Regions from separate parts of the Homo sapiens genome. Here region 1 is linked to region 2. The links come from fine-mapping of genetic effects on gene expression. Tissue or cell type: lung. Region 2 holds a variant in brackets; the other region holds the start of a gene. All regions are shown on one strand. Distances are between the middles of the regions.

The links. PIP is the estimated chance that this variant, and not a neighbour inherited with it, causes the effect.
Region 1: SWAP70 starts here. The variant in region 2 is fine-mapped to the expression of SWAP70 in lung (TOPMed, PIP above 0.99). The same link has a PIP of 0.9 or more in atrial appendage, breast, left ventricle, subcutaneous fat, thyroid and visceral fat.

What each region holds. Positions count from the first base shown.
Region 1 is chr11:9,658,898-9,669,667 of GRCh38, reverse strand. SWAP70 (switching B cell complex subunit SWAP70) reads right to left here and starts at 5,591. Exons shown (of 12, transcript NM_015055.4): 1 at 5,390-5,591. The coding sequence starts at 5,488. LOC124902628 (a long non-coding RNA gene) reads left to right here and starts at 9,554. Exons shown (of 2, transcript XR_007062586.1): 1 at 9,554-10,285. It also overlaps the pseudogene RPL21P97. RefSeq lists enhancers at 4,984-5,103, 6,214-6,413 and a silencer at 5,244-5,743.
Region 2 is chr11:9,683,478-9,694,247 of GRCh38, reverse strand. It overlaps SWAP70 (switching B cell complex subunit SWAP70), which reads right to left. Exons shown (of 12, transcript NM_015055.4): 2 at 1-102. Among named protein-coding and RNA genes, the nearest start is that of SWAP70, 25 kb to the right of the region's middle. The variant A/CCA (reference allele first, on the strand shown) is at 5,298.

The DNA.
Region 1 (10,770 bases), 25 kb after region 2:
GTGTATGTTCTACACTCCAATCAAAGTAAGTTACACAGAAGTCCCCATAAATACCTGATTCATTCCCATCTCTTGCAGTAGATCAGTGTTCCCTAGGGATAACAGCAATCAATAACTATCCATTAAATAAATAAATTAGGCTGGGCGTGGTCGCTCATGCCCATAATCCCAGCACTTTGGGTGACCGAGGCAGGTGGATCACTTGAGGTCAGGAGTTTGAGACCAGCCTGGCCAACATGGTGAAACCCTGTCTCCACTAAAAATACAAAAATTAGCGAGACATGGTGGTGCACATCTGTAGTCCCAGCTACTTGGGAAGCTGAAGCAGAAGAATCTCTTGAACCAGGGAGGTGGAGGTTGCCACTGTACTCAACCCTGGGCAACAGAGCAAGACTCCGTCTCAAAAAACTAAGTAATTAATTAATTAATAGAATGGGCTTAATCTTCCCCCATTCCTACATAATCACATCCTAACTTCCTTCGGAGTTCATTTCAAAGAAGCTTTTTTCATAAAGCAATCACACCAGTGAGAAGAAATCGCTTCTTCCTTTAAAATCTCATGGCTCCATATCTTCTGTCACACTCAGTATCTTTAACCCAATATTTCTGTTTGTTACCTTCACCACCAGACTTTATGTTTTTTAAGGATCAGTAATTGTCTGAGTAATATAATCTCTATCTGGAGAGAGAGAGTGTGCCTTCTTTAATGGTCATTTAGCCTTTTAATTTGCCTACCAAAGTTTAAACTCTTTGAAGGCAAAGATTCATATTTGTTTCTTTTTTCTCTGCCTTTCACCACCATATCCCTTATCTAGTGAATATATCCATTCTCTGTGTCAAAAGTTGTGAAGATAACTCAAAAAGGCAAGTATCAAAAATATTTTAGAATACCCATATAGCTTTCCAAAGCAATACATTTTAACCATCATTTTGGATACATAATTATTAGTCTGCTGTTTAACAAATCAATTATTTGACATTTCCTCCAAGGAGATATTAACTCTTAAGAGCCTAAAAATACTAATCTTCTGACTAAATTAGCATGGTACCTTACACATAGTAGACTTACAGAAGGTTACTGTATGAGTGAATGAATCAATCAACAAATTAAGGCAAAAACTCTACTCCCAGCCAACAGAACACAGAACTAGGGTCAAACACAAAAGGAGACCTAAATAAAAATGTTTAAATATTTTCAATTCTACGAACACTGGCAAGATGAACAGAACTGAACCAATCCCAAAGTCTCATACAGACAAGAGAGAGACAAAATACAATTGCACAGTTGCATTATCAACATACTGTGGGTGAAATCTATGAACTGGGATTTAACATTTCCTGCCAAGACGCTTTTCCTATAAGCAGCCATAAAGACAATTTTGAATAAAGTATCATCAAAGTAATCCAAAAAATCTCATTTATGCCGTCAATTGGAAGAGAAGAAAATGAAGAAACCATTGGCTTTAAAGTGTGAAAATAGGCCAGGCATGGTGGCTCACGCCTATAATCCCAATGCTTTGGGAGGCCAAGGCGGGTGGATCACCTGAGGTCAGGAGTTTGAGATGAGCCCAGCCAACATGGTGAAACCCCATCTCTACTAAAAATACAAAAATTAGCCAGGTGTGGTAGTGGGCACCTGTAATCCCAGCTATTTGGGAGGCTGAGGCAGGAGAATCGCTTGAACCCAGGAAGCAGAGGTTGCAGTGAGCCAAGATCGCACCACTGCACTCCAGCCTGGGTGATAAAGCGACACTCCGTCTCAAAAAAATAAAAAATACAACAGTAATAGTAATAAAGTGTGAAAATAGGATGGGTGCAGTGGCTCGTGCCTGTAATCCCAGCATTTTGAGAGGCTGAGGCAGGCATATAGTCTGAGCTCAGGAATTCAAGACCAGCCTGGGCAAATGGCAAAACTCCATCTCTACATAAGTACAAACATTAGCTGGGCATAGTGGCCTGTGCCTGTAGTCCCATCTACGTGGGAGTCTGAAGTGGGAGGACTGCTTGAGCCCAGGAGGTTGAGGCTGCATTGAGCCATGATCGCGCCACCGCATTCCAGCCTGGGCGACAAAAAGACCTTGTCTCCAAAAAAAGAGAAAAAGAATTATAAAGAGTTGTCTGGACAAGGTGGCTCATATCTGAATACCAGCACTTTAGAAGGCCAAGGCGGGCGGATGTCTTTGAGCTCAGGAGTTCAACACCAGCCTGGACAACATGACAAAACCCTATGTCTACAAAAAAATACAAAAATGAACTGAGCATGGTGGCTCATGCCTGTGAGCCTAGCTACTTGGGAGGTGGAGGCTGGAGGATCGCTTGAGCCAGGAAGTGGAGGTTGCAGTGAGCCAAGATAGTGCAACTGCACTCCAGCCTGGGTGACACAGCAAGACCCTGTCTCTCTCTCTCTCTCTCTCTCTCACACACACACACACACAGAAGTGTGAAAATCTTGGTTCTAGATTAGCTACTACTTACAACTGTGACTTTGGACAAATCACTAAACATATCATTGCAGTTGCTCACACCTGTAATCCTAGCACTTCTGGAGGCCAAGTTGGTTAAATTGCCTGAGCTCAGGAGTTCGAGACCAGCCTGGGCAATACAATGAAACCCCGTCTCTACTAAAACATACACACAAAAAAATTAGTCAGGCATGGCAGCGGGCACCTGTAGTCCCAGCACTTTGCAGGGCCAAGGCGGGCAGATCACGAGGTCAGGAGTTTGAGACCACCCTGGCCAATATGGTGAAACCCCATCTCTACTAAAAATACAAAAATTAGCCAGGCTTGGTGGCACGTGTCTGTAGTCCCAGCTACTCAGAAGGCTGAGGCAGGAGAATCGCTTGAACCCGGGAGGCAGAGGTTGCAGTGAGCCGAGATCACACCACTGCACTCTAGCCTGGGTGACAGAGCGCAACTCCGGCTCAAAAAAAAAAAAAAAAAATTAAGAGGTCATCTGGGAATATCTGGAAAAAAAGAATAAAATTTTCTTCTCCTCTTAAGATCTTTAAAAGAGAAATGATGGTTGAAAGCAAAAAATTTAATATTGTCTGATGGGGATTTCAATGTATGTAGATTAATAAATATGACAATTACAACATAAAGCAGTGAGAGTAAAGGGACCTATATGGTGATAAGTTTTCTACATTCTCCTTAAAGTGGTAAAATATTAACTCTAAGTACACTATGAAAAGTTAGGGATGGATATTCTAACTCCTAGAGCAAGTACTAAAAAAACCTACATGAAGAAATATAGTAAAAAACTCTATTAAAATGAAATATTGGCCAGGCACAGTGGGTCACACTTGTAATCCTAGCACTTCATGAAACCAAGGAGGGCAGATCACCTGAGCTCAGGAGTTCAAGACCAGCCTGGCCAACATGGTGAAACCCCGTTTCTACTAAAAATACAAAAATTAGCTAGGTGTGGTGACGCACACCTGCAATCCCAGCTACTTGGGAGGCTGAGGCACGAGAATCTCTAGAACCTAGGAGACAGACGTTGCAGTGAGCCGAGATCACACCACCGCACTCCAGCCTGGGCAACAGGGCAAGACTGTGTCTCAGAAAAAAAAAAAACAAAAAACTAAAGCATATTCAAATAATCCCAAAGATGGAAGAAAAAGAGAGGAAAAAAAAAAAGCAGAAACCAAATTATAATAAAATGGTAGCCCTAAATCAAACCATATCAATAATTACATTAAATGTAAATGGCCTAAATATACCAATTAAAAGACAGAGATTGTCAGAATGAATAAAAAAAAAGACCCAGCTACATCTATTTATTAAAAACTTACTTTAAATAAAATGGCATAGGTAAGTTAAAAGTAAAAATAAAAGTAAAATGTAGACCTACTCATAACTCCCCCGAACTGGAAATAACACAAATTCTCACAGATGCATGGCTAAAAACTACCATACATCCATGCAATAGAATATTACTTAGCAATTTAAAAAATTATTGGTACACACAACAAAATGGATTAATCTCTAAGGCATTATGCTGGGTAAAAGAAATCAGTTTCAACAGTTACAAACTATATGACTCCATTTACATGGCACTTCGGAAAAGGTAAAACTATAGCAATTAGGAAAGATCAATGGTTGCCGACAGTTGGGGTGGAGGCAGGGCAACATCAGGGAGTTTTTTAGGATGATGGAACTGAGGAAGCCATGGTTGTGGTGATAGTTATATAAATCTATACATATGTTGAAATTTATAGAACTGTACACCAAAAGTCAATTTTACTGTATGTTAATATTTAAAAATGAAGTAAAATAAAAATTACGTGGATGATCTCCATGGACCCTTCCAGACTATGATTCTATCAGTGAGAAAAAGAAAGGAGAGGCAAAAGGAAGACAAGGAGAATGTTAAGTCCTACTGGCATAAAAGCCACTACTCAGAAGAACGGGATTACTGTACAAAAATATACAAAACAAACCCAATCTTCAGAATTTATTCCCAGAAGGGGCTAAGAAAACCGGACATTCGGATCTAAAATATGTATATTTTTAAATGCCTATGAATAGCTTTTCTTGTCTGTTTCTATATTTTTTTACTTTGAAGAAGCTGCCAATTTCTGCTGGCTTAATGCCAATTTCGCTGCTTGGGGTTACTCAATTTACAAGCATCCCTTTATTTATACCCTATACTCTAGGGTCTCCGGCAGTCACAATAACGACTCTGAAAAAGCAGTCGCTTTTGCAGGGTGCCAGAAAGATCAGCGCTCCTCACCCGGAACTAAGGTCCCTGTGGGACACAGTACACCCCGTCCACTAGTTCCAAACTTAAAAGACGCTGGGCGGAAGGTCTTCCCAAGTCAAAAAGCCTCCCAAAGGAGAAGGACCCTGGAGGCCGGGCTTCGGGGCATTTCTGCGTCTCCGGACTGCCCTGTCGCCTCCGGGGCAGCTAGCCGTTTTGAGGACTGTCCTGGTGTGGGGCTGTGGGCTGCAGAAGGTTCTGCCCAGCGACCTTGGGCAAGTCCCTTCCTCTCCTGGAGTAAGAGGAAAATTCTGGGAAGGCTGTGTAAGGGAGCTTCCCATTGCCGCCTCAGAATCCACTTTCTGCCCCCCGCTCTCCAACGCCAAGAAGGAATCACACTTGGCCCTCCAGACTTCACCCCAGCCTTATGCCCGCCACCCTTCCCAGTCCCTGGGAGACCCGCGGGAACTAACACATCCAACCGAGGGCATGGCCCGAAGGCAAGGGGGAGGCAGTAAACACCAAATCCCGGTCTCAGACCCACTCCGCCCCAAGCGGGCCTACCGGGCGCATTCCGACCCGCCCCGCCCTGCGGTCACGGCCCGCCAGGTCCCGCTTCCACCCAAGGGAAGTACAGAGCGCGCCGGGGAGGGTCGGGTGGGGGGCCGGGTCAGGAGGCGCCCACCTTGAGCTGGGACTTGGAGACCTTGCCGCTGTGGTCCTGGTCGAGTGCGGTGAAGGCGTGCCAGATGGCTTTGAGCAGCTCCTCCTTCAAGCTCCCCATGGCCGCGGCCCTGCTGCCCCGCCAACCCCTCCTGCCCAGCCAGCCCCTCCGCGCCTCGGACGCCCCTCAACCTCCGCAGCCACAGCCCGCCGCGCAGTCACCTGACCCGCCAGGCCCCGCCCCCGCCAGGCCCCGCCCTGCTGCCGGCGCCGGTCCAGTGCCGCGCCCACAGCCGCCAGAGTGTGGGTTCTGCGAGTCAAGCCACGCCTGGTGGCAAGAATGCTTGGCCTTCAGTGTCAGCCAGGACGGTAAACACATCTCCCTAATGTTTCCCAGACCAGTTCGGGCCATTTTGGGTGCTCGAGTACAACACCTCACACAAATGACCGCGTCTTGAGGAAAAACCCGAGAGATTAGGTGAGCAGCCTACCCGCCTCCTCCCAGCGCCCCGCAGTGAAAAAGGGATCCCTGGTCCTGTCCTGGGAACGGAGTCACTGTCTGAGAAGGCCAGAGAAGACCCCGAAAAGTCCCCAGACCAGGACTGAAATGATAGCGCAGTCCCAAGTCGGGGAGATGCAGGGCGGCGGGGAGGCAGGAAGGACCTCGAGGGAAGTTTGTTGGTTCATTTCGCAAAAGTTTATTCATGCATACTCTATCTTGGGTTCTAGGGACACAGCGACGACGTTTAAGGGGAGTTTAGAAGTCAGGGTCAGGCAGCATTTTCTTCCTAACGCCTAGCTGTTGTTCAATTCACATCTTAGGAGGGGTTTGACCTGGGTAATACCTCTCTGTAGTGTTTCTCTGCTTGCAGAATAGGAGATCTGGGCCAATTCCAAATCACTCCACCCATTTTACTAATCCAAAGAGATGGACCATTTAAAAGAACGTATTCGGCCAGGCGTGGTGGCTCACGCCTGTAATCCCAGCCCTTTGGGAGGCCAAGGCGGGCGGATCACCTGAGGTCGGGGGTTCGAGACCAGCCTGACCAACATGAAGAAACCCCGTCTCTACTAAAAATACAAAATTAGCCGGGCGTGGTGGCACATGCCTGTAATCTCAGCTACTCGGGAGGCTGAGGCAGGAGAATCGCTTGAACCCGGTAGGCGGAGGTTGCAGTGAACCAAGATCGCGCCATTGCACTCCAGCCTGGGCAACAAGAGTGAAACTCCGTCTCAAAAAAAAAAAAAAAAGTATTCGATTGCAGCTGTTGAATTAATATCTGTTCGCGGTGGTCACAATGGTCACTTGATCTCTTTGGGCTTCAAATTATCCCGTATAAAAAGAGCAGGGTTGCACCAGATGTTCTGGAAGGGTTCTTGCAGTACTAGCATCCTAGGATAATAACTATTGCCGGTTAACTAAGGTCTGATTAAATCGCCAGGCTCAGTACCTCTCCTCTCCAATCCTGGACTAATTGGAGAGAACAATAAACACCAAGAGTTTTTAAAATGAGGTGGTTCTCAGATGAAGTTTGGTTTTGTTTTGCTTTTTTAAGTTCCTTAATGCACATGTTTGCCTTATTAAGAAAGGAAAAGATCTTCATAAGAAAGGGATATTTGGAAAGAGAAGAACAAGAAGGAGCCTCTTCAGTGAGTTTGAGATCAAAAAGGAACTGGTGGGGAAGAGGAGAGGATGGCCCCACTGACGAAAGAAGGGGCAGGAGCAAAAGGGTGGCCAGCCCCTCACTGTGACTGTCCTGAAGGTTCTACCCCATTTCATCACCATTTGTCAGGACTTTTCTTGCCCTACCAGAATCCAATTTCTATCATTTATCTTCCCCATTTCCAGCCCAAGTCTGCCAGTCAGCAAAACCACATGGTTTAACCTCTGATTTATTCATGCGAAGTCAGCTTACCCTGAGTAGCAAAAAAAAAAAAAAAAGAAGAAGAAGAAAAAAGAAACGAAGAAAACCTCCTAATTCTCAAGGTTCAGTTTAACCACTATATGACCCTTCTTCTCTCTCAGTATCTGGAAGTACCAAACATATTTCAAAGCCTTTTTTTTATGACAAGACCAGGACATTGTGGACTTCCAAATTCCTACTTCTCCCATCATCCTCATTCATACAATCCAAACGCATTTTTTTTCTTTTTTTTTCTTTTCTTTTTTTTTTGAGACAGAGTCTCACTCTGTTGCCCAGGCTGGAGTGCAACGGTATGATCTCAGCTCACTGCAACCTCCGCCTCCCGGGTTCAAGCGATTCTCCTGCCTCAACCTCCCAAGTAGCTGGGATTACAGGCGCCAGCCACCACGCCCGGCTAATTTTTTTATTTTTAGTAGAGATGGGGTTTCGCCATGTTGGCCAGGTTGGTCTCAAACTCCCAGCCTCAAGTGAGCTGCCCTCCTTGGCCTCCCAAAGTGCTGGGATTACAGGCGTGAGCCACCATGCCCTTCCTATCCAAACAAATTTTAAAGTAGCATGATGTCATAGAAAGCGCTGTGCTTTTCCTGGGTGCAGTGGCTCCTGCCTGTAATCCCAACACTTTGAGAGACTGGGGTGGGAGGATTGCTTGAGGCCAGGAGTTCAAGACCAGCCTGGGCAATGTAGCAAAACCCCGTCTCCACAAAAAAATTGAAAATAAGAAAGAAAGAAAAGTAAAGAGTTGTGCTTCAGAATCTAACAGATTATATTAATCTAATGCTGTGTAACCAATTAACCCAAAATTTAGCAGCTTAAAACTATAGTAAACATTATTTCATATTTTCTGTAAGTCAGGAATTTAGAAGCCACTTAGCTCTATAGTTCTGGCTTGAAGTGTCTCAGGAGGTTGCAGTAAAATATAGGGCTGTAGTCATTTGAAGGCTAGGCTGATGCTGGAAAATCTATTTCCAAGGTGGTTCACTCACATGGATGGGTCGTTTACAGAAGGCCTCAGTTCCTCTGTATATGGGCCTGTCCTCAGGCTGCTTGAGTATCCTTACAACACGTCAGCTGGCTTTCAATTGATTCAAGAAAGAGAAAGATGGAAGTTGCAATGTCTCTTACGATCCACCATCAAAAGTCATTCACCATCATTTCTGCAATGCTCTACTGATTGCTCAGGTCAAATCTATTTGATTTGGGAGGGAAACTACAAAAGGATATGAGTACCAATGGGCAAGAATCATGGGGGTCATCTTGGAAGATGGCTACCACACAGATGTCGGGAAGAATCCGGGCTTCCCCATTGACTCATCTATGAGTAAATATAAGGCTTCATTTCCTCATATGTAAAATGAGAATGCTAATATTTATTTTGCAACACTTCTTTTTTCTTTTTTTAATTTTTTTTTTTTTTTTTACAGCCCAGAGGTCCTTTATTTTTTTTTTTAACACCTATTATGCCATGAATTCATAGGAAATAGGTTCCAGCAGCTCAGGCTGCTTCCCGTTGGTTCTCACAAAGTGTGCTTCTCTGGGTGGAGCAGGCTGGCGCTTTAGTTGAACCCAGGTACCTTTCTCTTTGGCGTCTTTCTTTTTCTGATCATTTTCCTTCACGTGTTTCAGGAAGCTATCTCGGCTCTTAGAGTGCTTAATGTGCTCAATACGCACCTTAATTCTCTTGGCAAGAATCTTGCCCTTAACTTGTTTGTTTACAACAATGCCAACAGCATGCTGGGTAACATTGTAGACTCTTCCAGTTTTGCCATGGTAACACTTGTGGGGCATTCCTTTTTGAGCAGTACCCATTCCCTTGATGTCTACAATATCAGCTTTCTTATAGATTCGCATATATGTGGCCAAAGGAACAACTCCATGTTTTCTAAAAGGCCTAGAGAACATATATCGGGTGCCTCTCCTCTTTCCCTTTGTGTTCGTCATTTTGGCGAATTACTGGAAGATGGCGGTTCCGGCCGAAAGGAAACTTTTTTTTTTTTTTTTTGAGACGAAGTCTTGCTGTCACCCAGGCTGGAGCGCAGTGGCTTGATCTTGGCTCACTGCAATCTCTGGCACCTGGGTTTAAGCAATTCTCCTGCCTCAGCCTCTGAAATAGCTGGGATTACAAGCGCGTGCCACCATGCCCAGCTAATTTTTGTATATTTAGTAGAGATGGGGTTTCAGCATCTTGGCCAGGCTGGTCTTGAACTCCTGACCTCGTGATCCACCCTGCCTCGGCCTCTCAAAGTGCTGGGATTACAGGCGTCAGCCACCGCACCCGGCCTCTTTTTTTAATTTTTATTTTTTTGATGAGGTCTTTCCAGATGAGATCTATTTTGCAAGACTGGTATGAAGTTTAAATGAGAGGGTAGTATGTATAAGACACAGCATCAGCATCATGGTATCTGACAGTCACTGATGTTTGTACTGTGTCAATTAGGTAAGTTGAAATCTAGTTCCTCAAATGTCCGTTCCCAATGTGGATCCAGGATAGGATTCACTACAGAAGAATTTCGTGTAAGTTTGGAAGGAGCAGGTAAGATTTATGTAAGATTTGGAAGCAGCAGCCCTTGTGTTCTGAAGGTTGATGTAAATATCACATGCCGCTGCAGATCATAGAGTGGTTACTGATCTGCTAACATACTTTGTTGGTACAGAGCATTAACTGGCCCACAGCTCCTTCAACTCCCACCAAATTTTCTATTTCAGTGTCTCCAAGCCTTGGCGCAAGGCACGTGTAGTTCCATGGTAAAGGCATTAGCTTATGCTACATATCGCATGCTCGTCAATGTGAAAGATAGCTGTGAGTTCCATTTTGTCTTCGTGGGTTCCAGTTTGTCCTGTGGATTCTAGTTTGTCCTCACTCTCCCTCAATGCAATCCAACTTTTCTTCCTGATTGCTAGCCCTGATGACCTATCATAAACTTCAGGCCCATTGCTGGATGCAGAGGGAACAGCCTTCCATGTACTCATTCGTCAGCTTTCCTTTGTGATCTCTGGTTAGTGACTTTTCTGATTGTCCAGCCATCTCCTTTCAGACCTTTTCTTCCCTAGCTTCTCCTGCAACTGTATTGTATCCAATTCTCAGAATAAAGCCTGTATTCCATAGTGGTGGCCACTTCCCTGATCAGCCCATAACTGATAATAAAACTGGTGAAGTTAGACACTGCAACAATGAAAAGCATGTGTTGGCCGGGCGCGGTGGCTCACGCCTGTAATCCCAGCACTTTGGGAGGCTGAGGCAGGTGGATCACGAGGTCAGGAGATCAAGACCATCCTGGCTAACATGGTGAAACACTGTCTCTACTAAATATACAAAAAATTAGCCGGGTGTGGTGGCGGGCGCCTGTAGTCCCAGCTACTCGGGAGGCTGAGGCAGGAGAATGGCGTGAACCTGAGAGGCGGAGCTTGCCGTGAGCGGAGATCGCACCACTGCACTCCAGCCTGGGTGACAGAGCGAGACTCTGTCTCAAAAAAAAAAAAG
Region 2 (10,770 bases):
CTGGTTGGACACTGGACCCTCATCATCATCCCTGAAGTGCTCTTCAAGGGCAACTGGGTCATGAGGAACCTTCAGCACCGTGCACAGGTTATGGGAAAGGACCTGCAAGGGAAAAGAAAATCGTTTAAAGACTCCCACTAACCAGCACATGACACCTTCACCATGAGTACAACATGCTGCTCCCTCTCCTGGGTAGAGAAAGATGGAAAATAAACTAGCAAAAACAGGGTGAGGACTGCTCAGCTGCAAGCCCCTACTTGTAACCTGTTATTCTTTCTCATTCCTTCCCAGGTTTGGTTCACTTAGAACTAGTCTCTATTACATGCCTACTATGAGCCAGGCTCCATGCAAGATCTGTGAATATAATACTCCTGTGGTCTTTTACTAATTTGTCCACATCAGAAAGAAAAGTGGGGTGGGGGGGGAAGTCTAAGAGAATGTGTTCAAAATTAAACTTTTCACCAAGTAGAGCAGAGTCAGCCAATTAGAGCTGTTCAGAGAAAGAACCTGGTATTATTGGGAGGCTGCAGCCAGGGGTTCTGGACAAGGAGGCTGACCTGGGCAAGTCACAACCTCTCCAGGCTTTAGTTTTCTCATTTATTCAATAGAAAGGGCCAAATTAATATACCAAATATTAATTAGGAATCTCTAAGTATCTAAACATTTCTAAAATTCTATGACTAGGCTAAATTTCAGCATGAGTATAAAAGAATATAAATATAAAAAGAGAAAGAAATCAAGGGCCTGGATTAGATTCAGGAAAAAATTAAATAGCAAAAATAGGAGTCGCCAACATGGTTAAAAATATTTTACAGAAAACCTGCATTCCATAGCATAAATACATATAAAGGGCTACTGGTCTTGCAATAACCTAAGTTCACACTTCAAAGTCCAGGTACAGTAGTTAAATGAGCAGTGTGGGCTACCTTAGTATTAATCTTGTTTTACATTAAATGAAAATTTCAAGATAGAACTTAAATCCCTTCCATTTCATTTGTGCTTTCTGAACAGGTCAAATTACATAGCTAAGGCTGTATTTTCTTCAACAGAGAATCTTCCTAGTTGAACCCCAGGTAAAAACGTTCCTTATTTTTCTCAGCCCTAAACATTTAACCTTAAGGAGCCACATTCATCTCAATAAATACTTTCATTTGCATTAAGCGAGTCCCTTTTTCTGCATACACATATTTCAGTTAGGAGTTTTTTTAAGATTAAACATTTTTAATCTATAAAATAATTTGCATATCTTCTTTCTAAATTTGTTTTGTTTCTCAAAGCTTCATTTATGTGGAGATCCTTTTCTACATGCTCTACTGGTTTTAAGGAAGTAAGTTAAGGAAGTAAATTCACAAATGGTTATAAATGCAGTAATGAAGACTACAAAGCAGGCTGTGTTTCTCAAGCAAACCCTGTGTTTGCCAGTAAAGCACATGAAAAGAGTACGGTGGAGCTTTTATTGGAGAATCCTGCACCACAATCAGCAAAATTTTAAAAAGATATTTAATTTATATTAGCCTAGTAAATCCTATATACTAAAGATCAATTTCAAGAATATAAAGAGCTTAATAACTGTAAAATGCTATGGAAATACAAGTATTAAAGAAATGCACACTTCTCAGATCAGGTTCAAATGTCATTCAAATTTTAAAATCATTTGGAACTTTACCCAAGTTAACAATTCCCAACTACTGGTTAAATTAAGGTATATCCATAAAACATAAAAACCATGAGAAAGCTTGCTATGTACGGATATGAAAAGATCTCCAACATAAATTAAGTGAAAAAAACAAGGTACCTAAGAATATGTATGCCATCTTTTGTATAAAAAAGAAAAGGGAGGAAGAAAAGAAATTCTGGAGGGATATATAAGAAACTAGTAACTGTGAAAGGAAGACAAGTTTGATGAGACCAAGGTTAGAAAAAGACTTCACTGTAGCTCTTCTTTGTATTAAGTTTTTTTAAAAAAAATTAACCTACTCAAAAATGTAGTACATATTTTTAAAATTAAATATATATATATATATATATATTTTAAGTGGCCAGCCTAAGATCACATAGATCAATCTATTTATCTTCATAGCCTATACTTTTTCTTCTACATTAACCTGCTGACTAGAAATGAGGTGTAAAAGGAAGACATATTCCACAGCAATGTACCATGACTAATGGATGAGTGAGCTGTAAGGGCAATAAATGAGTTCAGAAAAGGAGAAATAGTATGTGTTACAGTGACTTCACAGAGGAAGTAAAATGTAACTTATGGCTTACAGGATAGGTAAGGATAGCTTTAGGATAGGAATAGAGGCAAATACAAAAATTTCCAGATAGGGGAATAACATGATAAAAGTAGCTGATTAATCCAAAGCCTTCAGGAAACAAAAAACACCATCTCTCCCATACCCACCCTGTTCTCTACCTTAGGGTTTCACAGATCCTCTAACTAAAGCCCTGGCAGGGGCCTTGGATGTCATATTGTCATCCTCATCTTATAAATGGTGACTACAGACTCACAGATATTAAATTTGTTTTTCTTGACTAAAGTTACTGAGAAGAACTGAGACTAGAACTCGGGTTTTGTAATCTCTGGTCCAGCACTCTCCAGTAATAAGAAACATTATGTCTTCAGTTGTCTAAAGTCAACAATGCTCTTTGTACATATAGATGCTTAGTTTGATTAAGTGATCCCACTGCAGAAGATATAGATTTGAACTCAAGATTTCAGCCTTCGACAATTAAACAGCACTCTTGTTAAACACAGGGATGGCTAAATTCAGTGATAATTTTCTTAACCATCTTTACTTAGGCAAACTGTGAGGAAGGCAGCACAGTATACAAGGCACCTGGAAGAGACCTGCGCTCCAATGTCTCTGCATCCTCACTGTCAAATGAGAGTTGGACTTGTTTGTAAAACCCTTAACTATCAACCCAAACTCATTTCATAATTTAGATAAGAAGTCCAGCTTTGTGACAGCTTTTTCACTGTTAGTAAGGTCTATAAAAGGGAAGTCTTCTTCAAAAAATATAACAACAGGCTGGGCATGGTGGCTTATGCCAATAATCCTAGCACTCTGGGGGGCTGAAACAAGAGGATAGCTAGAGCCCAGAAGTTCAATACCAACCTGGACAACATGGCAAAACCCCATCTCTATAGAAAGTACAAAAGCTAGCTGGATGTGGTGGCACATGCCTGTAGTCCCAGCTACCTGGGAGGCTGAGATGGGAGGCTGAGGTGGGAGGATCACCTAAGCCTAGGGAGGTCGAGGCTGCATTGAGCCATGATCATGCCACTGCACTCCAACCTTGGTGACAGAGGGGGTCCCATCTCAAAAATTAATTAATTAATTATAATATATATGTATATATAAAACAACCAACTGAATAAAGCAACAATGAAACAGTATTTCTAAAAGAGGAAAAAATTGTGTACTATCTTTAAAACTTTTTATCAGCAACCTTTCTTTAAAGCTTAGACAGTATCTCAAGTATTTTTTTCTTTTTTAAGATTTATTTGTATTTTTTAAAAATAGAGATGGGGTCTCACTATGTGTGCCCAGGCGGGTCTCAAACTCCTGGGCTCAAGTGATCCTCCCACCTCAGCCTCCCAAAGTGCCAGGATTATACACATGAGCCACCATGCCCAGTCTCAACAAGGTTTTTTGTTTGTTTGTTTTTTGTTTTGAGGCAGAGTCTCACTCTGTCACCCAGGCTGGAGTGCAATGGCATGATCTCAGCAACGTCTGCCTCCTAAGTTCAAGCAATCTTTCCACCTCAGCCTCCCAAGTAGCGGAATTACAGGCACCTGCCACCACACCCAGCTAATTTTTATATTTTTAGTAGAGACAGAGTTTCACCATGTTGGCCAGACTGGTCTCAAACTCCTGACCTCAAGTGATCCACCCACCTTGGCCTGCGTGCTGGGATTAGAGGCGTGAACGACTACACCTTACCAAGGTTTTCTTTTTATAAAAATAAAATATACAAGAAATAAAATTTTTGATGGCCGGAATATAAACTAGTAAAAAGAAGTAAAAGCTCCTCCATAAACTTATACAGCAATTTATGCTTTTTCAAGTAGACTCATACCATCTATTAATTTGTTTTAGCCTCTCCACAGGGAGAATAGATATTATTGCTATTTTACAGACGAAGAGGCTGAGTCAGAGATTAGGAGATGTGTCCCAAATCACAGAGTTTTACGTGTAGCAAAACTGGGATTAGACCCAAGCCTCCCACTCTGGTGTCCTTTCCATGCTTTGCTACCTTCCCTCTGTTTCTGGAAAAACAGATAGCCCTGCCAATACAAAGATGGACACGCCCGTGAGTTGTTTCTAAATTTTAGTGATGTGCTGGTGCTACCCCAGCCCCACCCCATCAGCTCCACAGGGCCCAACAGAGATGACAGGCACTATTCAGCAGAGCCAAGTTAGTGCCAGTGGCAAGGAAGTCCACATACCTAGAAGTCTGGGACCGTTCTCTCTCTGGGAGCCCTCATCTCCCAGCACCCTATCCCTCTGGGGGAATCTGCACTAAGAGGCACTAACCCCTTCTCCAGATGAGGAAGCTGAAAAGCAGATTAAGACAAAAGAATCAGAAAGAGGACTACAAGTTCTTGATTTGTAAAAGGACTGCCCCAAATCATTCTAATCAGGGTGTTTGCAAGTTTCTTGAAAAAGCTGAATTTATCCCGCTTCAAATGCCTGTTCCTCCAAAGGCCATTCTTTCAGCACCCACATAATTGCTAAGCAGCTTTGCTCTCATTCTGCTGATCTGAAGAATAAACTATTGTTACCACAATAACAGATCCATATCCATGCCAGAAACTCATCTCTCCAGTTCCCTCATAGCTGTCTGCAGTTGCCTCTGCAGGGCCTCTGCTGACAAGATGACTAATTAACTGCATGAGCCCTGCTCGTGTGGTCTGTTCCTGTTCAGTGGTTTGCTTGCCATTTACCCCTTTTGAGCATTTTACTCCAGCCATCATGAAAATGAAATCAAGGATGGTGAACAGTGTTTTAACACGAGTAAGTAGTGTTCACCCTCCTTTCTCCAAAGACGTAGAGATTCTAAAAAGTTATTTAAAACGTGCCACCCAGTAACACACTGTTTCCCTTTACAGGATGTGCGTAATGGGCAAGATTCAACACTGAAAAAAAAGCGGAGTGGGGGCAGATTTCTATTCCAAAAGACTTATCTGAACTGACACAATTATAGACTTATAACTCATAATGGGCAATCTTTTTTTAAAACATTAAAATTCCTGTCTGATTTATAAAATTTCAAGCCAATGGCAAATTACC[A/CCA]GAAAATTCTTCCTAACAATGGACCAGCATGACCAATTTCCTACCACAGCTATGCCCTGCCTTAAAAGCATTGTCTACTCTAAGTCCTGCCCATTCCCGCATGGACTCATTTTCCCCTTCCAAACATCTTTTCATCCTGCTTGTCACTGCTTAAGTCTTGCTTGTTTCCTCTTACCTTTAATCTAACCAGCCTCAAAAATCTCAAAGTCATTGTTCACATTGCTCTCAATCCCTAAGTACAATCAGTTACCATCCTAGACACTTACACCAAATCTTCAAGTACCACTAACATCACGTTATCCCCCTGCCTAAAAATCATCAGAAGACTACAGAAGTAAAAGCTAAGGAAATATGTGAGTTGTATATTTAAGTCACTCCACAGGCCAGCCCACTTCACCTTCCTTATTTCTTCCCACCCTCTGCACCAACCATATAAATCCAGCCAAATAAGCTTACTAACTGCATCCCAGGCAACTTGTACCACATCCCTTTCTCCCCTGGGCCCTTGCTCAATTTACCCCTACCTCCTTTCCTGCCTAACAAAAATGGCATCTCTTTCTGAAGCCTTCACCACCCAAACCAAGATGATCTTTCTTCACTCTGTTTCCCAAGCAGTACCTCTTGTGCTAACTACCACACATGATTTCTCTCTCCTGTAAGACTGTACATTTCTGAAAGGCCCATATCTTATACAACATTGCATGCCCATGGCACCTGGCATGCTGCCCAGAATCCAGAAGACTTTCAATAACTGCTAAGTGAATTCTTTCTAAAAATTCTCTTAACACTAAAGCCGTGATACTTTAATATTAACAATAATCTTAGAAAATATACTATTTCTATCTCCTCACTTCACAGATAAAAAGACTGTGGCCTGAGACTTGGCCTAAGTCACACAATAATTAGCAACAAAGTAGGGACTAGAACTCAAATCTCTTAGCTCTCTGTCCCACAGTGATGCCCTGTGCTGGAAACATTTCTCTTCTGCCTAGTCACATCCTTCAAGATTGGGTCATTCATAAACTCTAGGAAATCTTTATGGATTACCACCCTGCCCCATGAACTCCTATTCAGCATTTAACTATGTTCTGTTTCAGATACTAATGGTATCTCAAATATCTAACTTATCAAATATCCTCCCTTATTGAAGGGAGGAAATAAATATTTTCCTTCTGCATCCTTCAGTGACTAGCATAGGGCTAAGCGAAGATTCAGTAAGAGCAGAACACTTACAGACAGATTAAGGAAAAGTAACTCAAAGTCATCTGTTGGAATGCTGTCCACAGAATATATGCCACTGATGTCATACAGCATGGATGGCACTGGATTACACTCTAACTGAACCACCTTTTTAAAGTTATTTTGGATAACTTACCAACTTACCCCTCTTCAGAAACTAAACAGAAAATACTGGTAAATTTGACCACAGAAAAATGCTTATATTTTCTTTTAAAAAGAAAGAAACCATAAAAAAACAAAAAAGGCAAATAGCTCCAATATTCAAATCATTCTTGTGGACACGAATAGAAAATTCACAAAAGAAACTAATCACTAATAAATAGAGGATACCTTTCAAGTTCAGGTGGAACTCCTGGGACCTTTAACTTTTGGATTGTATGGCTAAGGCATAATGTTGTTTGTTGTGTATTATATTTGGTATAACTTTTCTTACTGTTTCTCTACTAAGAATGCCTTTAAATATGGTTATTGTGATACTTTTTTACAAGGAAACTATATTTGAGCAGTTCCAAATTGTACATACTGTATGAACCTTGTCCTCTGAATGGGTTCCTTATTTCTACACGGAATTGCGTAGCTTGCAGTATCATGTAACTAAAGATTAAACCTCACCTTTTACTTCAAAAATAGGCAAATAAAATATAGGAAAAGATGCTTAATCTTGCTAGTAATCAAAAGAATGCACATTAAAAGAGCTACTACTTTTTGCCTAAGTAATACCTGGTGTTTGAGGAGATATAAGGGAGTAAAGACTACCAATATCCAACACTGCAGAAGGTACAGAGCAGGTTTTTCTCAACTTCAGTACTACTGACATTTTTGGCTGAATAATTATTTGTTTGGGGGACAGGGCAGGTAACCTACGCATTGTACAATGTATAGCAGTATCCTGGGTTAAAAACATTTAAAACATCTCAAATACCTGTGAATAGGAAATGGTTAAATAAAGCATGATGCATCAACACAATGAAAGAGTTCACAGTCATTATAAAGGATGGTGTCTGTATCTATATGCATTTATACAGAAAGATGACCCTAACACAATGCTTAAGAAGAGACTACAGGCCAGGCACAGTGGCTCTCACCTGTAATCCCAGCACTGAGGGAGGCCAAGGGAGGAGGATCACTTGAGCCCAGGAGTTCAAGACCAGCCTGGGCAACAAAGTAAGACCCTATCTCTACAAAAAATACAAAAATTAGCTGTGAGCCTGTGGTCCCAGCTACTAGGGAGGCTAAGGTAGGAGAATCAAATGAGCCCAGGAGGTTGAGGCTGCAGTGAGTCGTGATGGTGCCGCTGTACTCCAGCTCTGGCAACTGAGCGAGAACCTGTCTCACAAAAATAAATAAATAAATAAATAAATAAATAAGAAAATAAAAGAGGATACGAAAGGATACAGAATATGACCCTATTTATACAAAAGGACATATATGTCTGTGTATTTACATATGTGTATATGCATGTGTGTACATGATGGGGGAAGGGAGAAAGAGAGATATATAAGAAAGATATTCACTGAAAAGTTAATTACAACCTGCCTTTGGTGGTAGAATTTGAATGTTTTACTTTGGACTCTGTACTTTAATACATTGTTTGAGTATTCTATGTATTACCTTTCAATCAGAAAATGAAGCTTTTATCTTTTAATATTTTATATATTTTAAATAGAAAATTAAAAAATTAAGTAGGGTGGAGGGCTTGCTATGGTCTGAATGTGTCCCCCAAAATTCATATGTTGAAACTTAATCTCCAATGTGTCAGTATTAAGAGGTGAGGCCTCGCCGGGAGCAATGGCTCACGCCTGTAATCCCAGCACTTTGGGAGGAGGCCAAGGAAGGTAGATCACGAGATCAGGAGATCGAGGCCATCCTGGCCAACATGGTGAAACCCCATCTCTACTAAAAATACAAAAATTAGCCGGGCGTGGTGGTGTGTGCCTGTAGTCCCAGCTACTCGGGAAGCTGAGGCAGGAGAATTGCTTGAACCAGGGAGTCAGAGATTGCAGTGAGCAGAAATCACACCACTGTACTCCAGCCTGGGTGACAGAGCAAGACAAGACTCCGTCTCAAAAAAAAAAGAGGTGAGGCCTTTAGGTGGTGATTAAGTCAAGAGAGCGGAACTCTCGCAAATGGGATCAATGACCTTATAAAAGAGGTTGAAGGGAGAGAGTTCCCTAGTCTCTTTTGCCCTTCTGCCATGTGAGGATACAGCAACAAGGAACCATCTTGGGAGCAGACAGCAAGCCATCACCAGACACTCAATCTGCTAGCATCTTGATCTTGGACTTTCCAGTATCCAGAACTGTGATAAATAAATTTATATTATTTATAAATTACCTAGTCTGTGGTATTTTGCTGCAGTATCAGGACTAGGTGAAACAAGGCTCCTGCTAGAAAGCACCAGTAAAATTAGAAAATGAAAAGATCATTGTAGAACTATAAAGTTGATAAAATTAACTCCTCTGAGCCACCCACAAAGCATGCTTTCCCATACCTCTTTAAAAAGCCACCCTATGGAGGTTGTGGCAGGCCGAGATGGTGCTACTGCACTCCAGCCTCGGCACAGAGCGAGACTCCATCTCAAAAAAAAAAAAAAAGAAAGTCACCCTAATGGACAACAAAGTCCCCCAATTTGGGACAGCCTCCTGAGAGTCCAGCCCCCCAGTGAAATATTGCACAAATGTCTTTTAAGAAGGTAAATGATTTGTGAGGAGATTTAACTCCAGCAAGCTTCTTTATCTTTCTCACTACTCTGTAAGTTCCTTAAAGAGAGAGTCTGTATTTTAGCCATCTGTGCAATACGTATTTTAGCCATCTGTGAATACCAAAACCTAATGAAGTACCTAATGAGAGAGCTGTTCAACAAATGTTTGCTAAATTAGTCCCATTTAAGAATTTCCAAGAATTTTTTTCTTTTTTTAAATTTCATTTTGCTACTTTACCATCTTCATCTAGATCTGGGTCTTTGCATTTATTTTACTATACTACCATGTTTCTAGAAGAATTTTTAATTGGAATCTCTAGTTCAGATCACTTTCAGAGTGAAAAACAATGCCTCCATTAGTTCTTAACACCACCAGAACTAGCCAAGCACAACTCGTCTGGCCTGAGATCTAGTAGAGAAGTCCAGTTTCTTAAAATTCAAGTACAGACTTCTGAGAAAAGGACACAATAAGAATTAACAAGCAGGTGTGAGAGAAGGCTCTATAACAGAAGAGGGGGCTCTGAGCTCCTTGACTATCACCTCCTTAGAAGTTTAATTTAGTACACTCATCTCCAAGAGAAAATGTGAAGTCACAGTGTGCATTCAAAGTGGTGACAAAGACCACAAATCTGGCTGGACGCAGTGGCTCATGCCCATAATCTCAACACTGGGAGGCTGAGGCAGGAGGATCACTTGAGGTCAGGAGTTTGGGACCAGCCCGGGCAACATAACAAGACCCTGTCTCTATGAAAAATATAAAAATTAGCAAGGCATGGTGGCGCACACCTGCAATCCCAACTGCTCAGCAGGCTGAGGTGGGAGGACCACTTGAGCCTAGGAGTTCAAGGTTGCAGTGAGCCATAACAGCACCACTGCACTCCAGCCTGGGTGACAGTGTAAGACCCTGTCTCAAAAAGAAAAATTTTTTAATTTAAGAAAGATCACAAATCTGAAGTCATTAAAATATACAGAAATCAAAAATATATAAAATAAAATTAAAAATAAAAGAATGAAAAAAAATCACAAATGTGAGGTTTCCCTCGGCTGCCCCACCTTCTCACCAACCTGACCCCGCATGGTCCCTAAAATATGACTTCTATCCCTATCAATCTCTTGAAATTGCTTTTCTAAATGGATTCTGAGGTAGACACAGAGATGCACCACTCAGATGCCCCCTCAAGTAGGTAACTGCTACCCAGCTACAAGGACTGTGTTAAGCTGATAGCCTCCAGCTACTTTCAGGGTCCCAGTGACAGAGCGGGGTGGTAGGATCACTTTTCCTCAATGTGGGAGTCCCATAAGGGGCAATCTTTGCTTCAGAGCTCCTGGTTTTGCCAAATCCATATGATGGTTTGACAGTTCCTTTTCCCAATTTCATTTCCTCTCTCCCACCCCACAGGTAACACTTTTGTATTCCTAACAGTGTCTTAACATTGGCTTCCTGGAGAACCCATGCTGGGACAGATACCTTCTGGCCAAGTCACTCTCCCAAAGGTCTGGCAGTTGGCAGTCTGAATCACCCCCTCCTCTTAG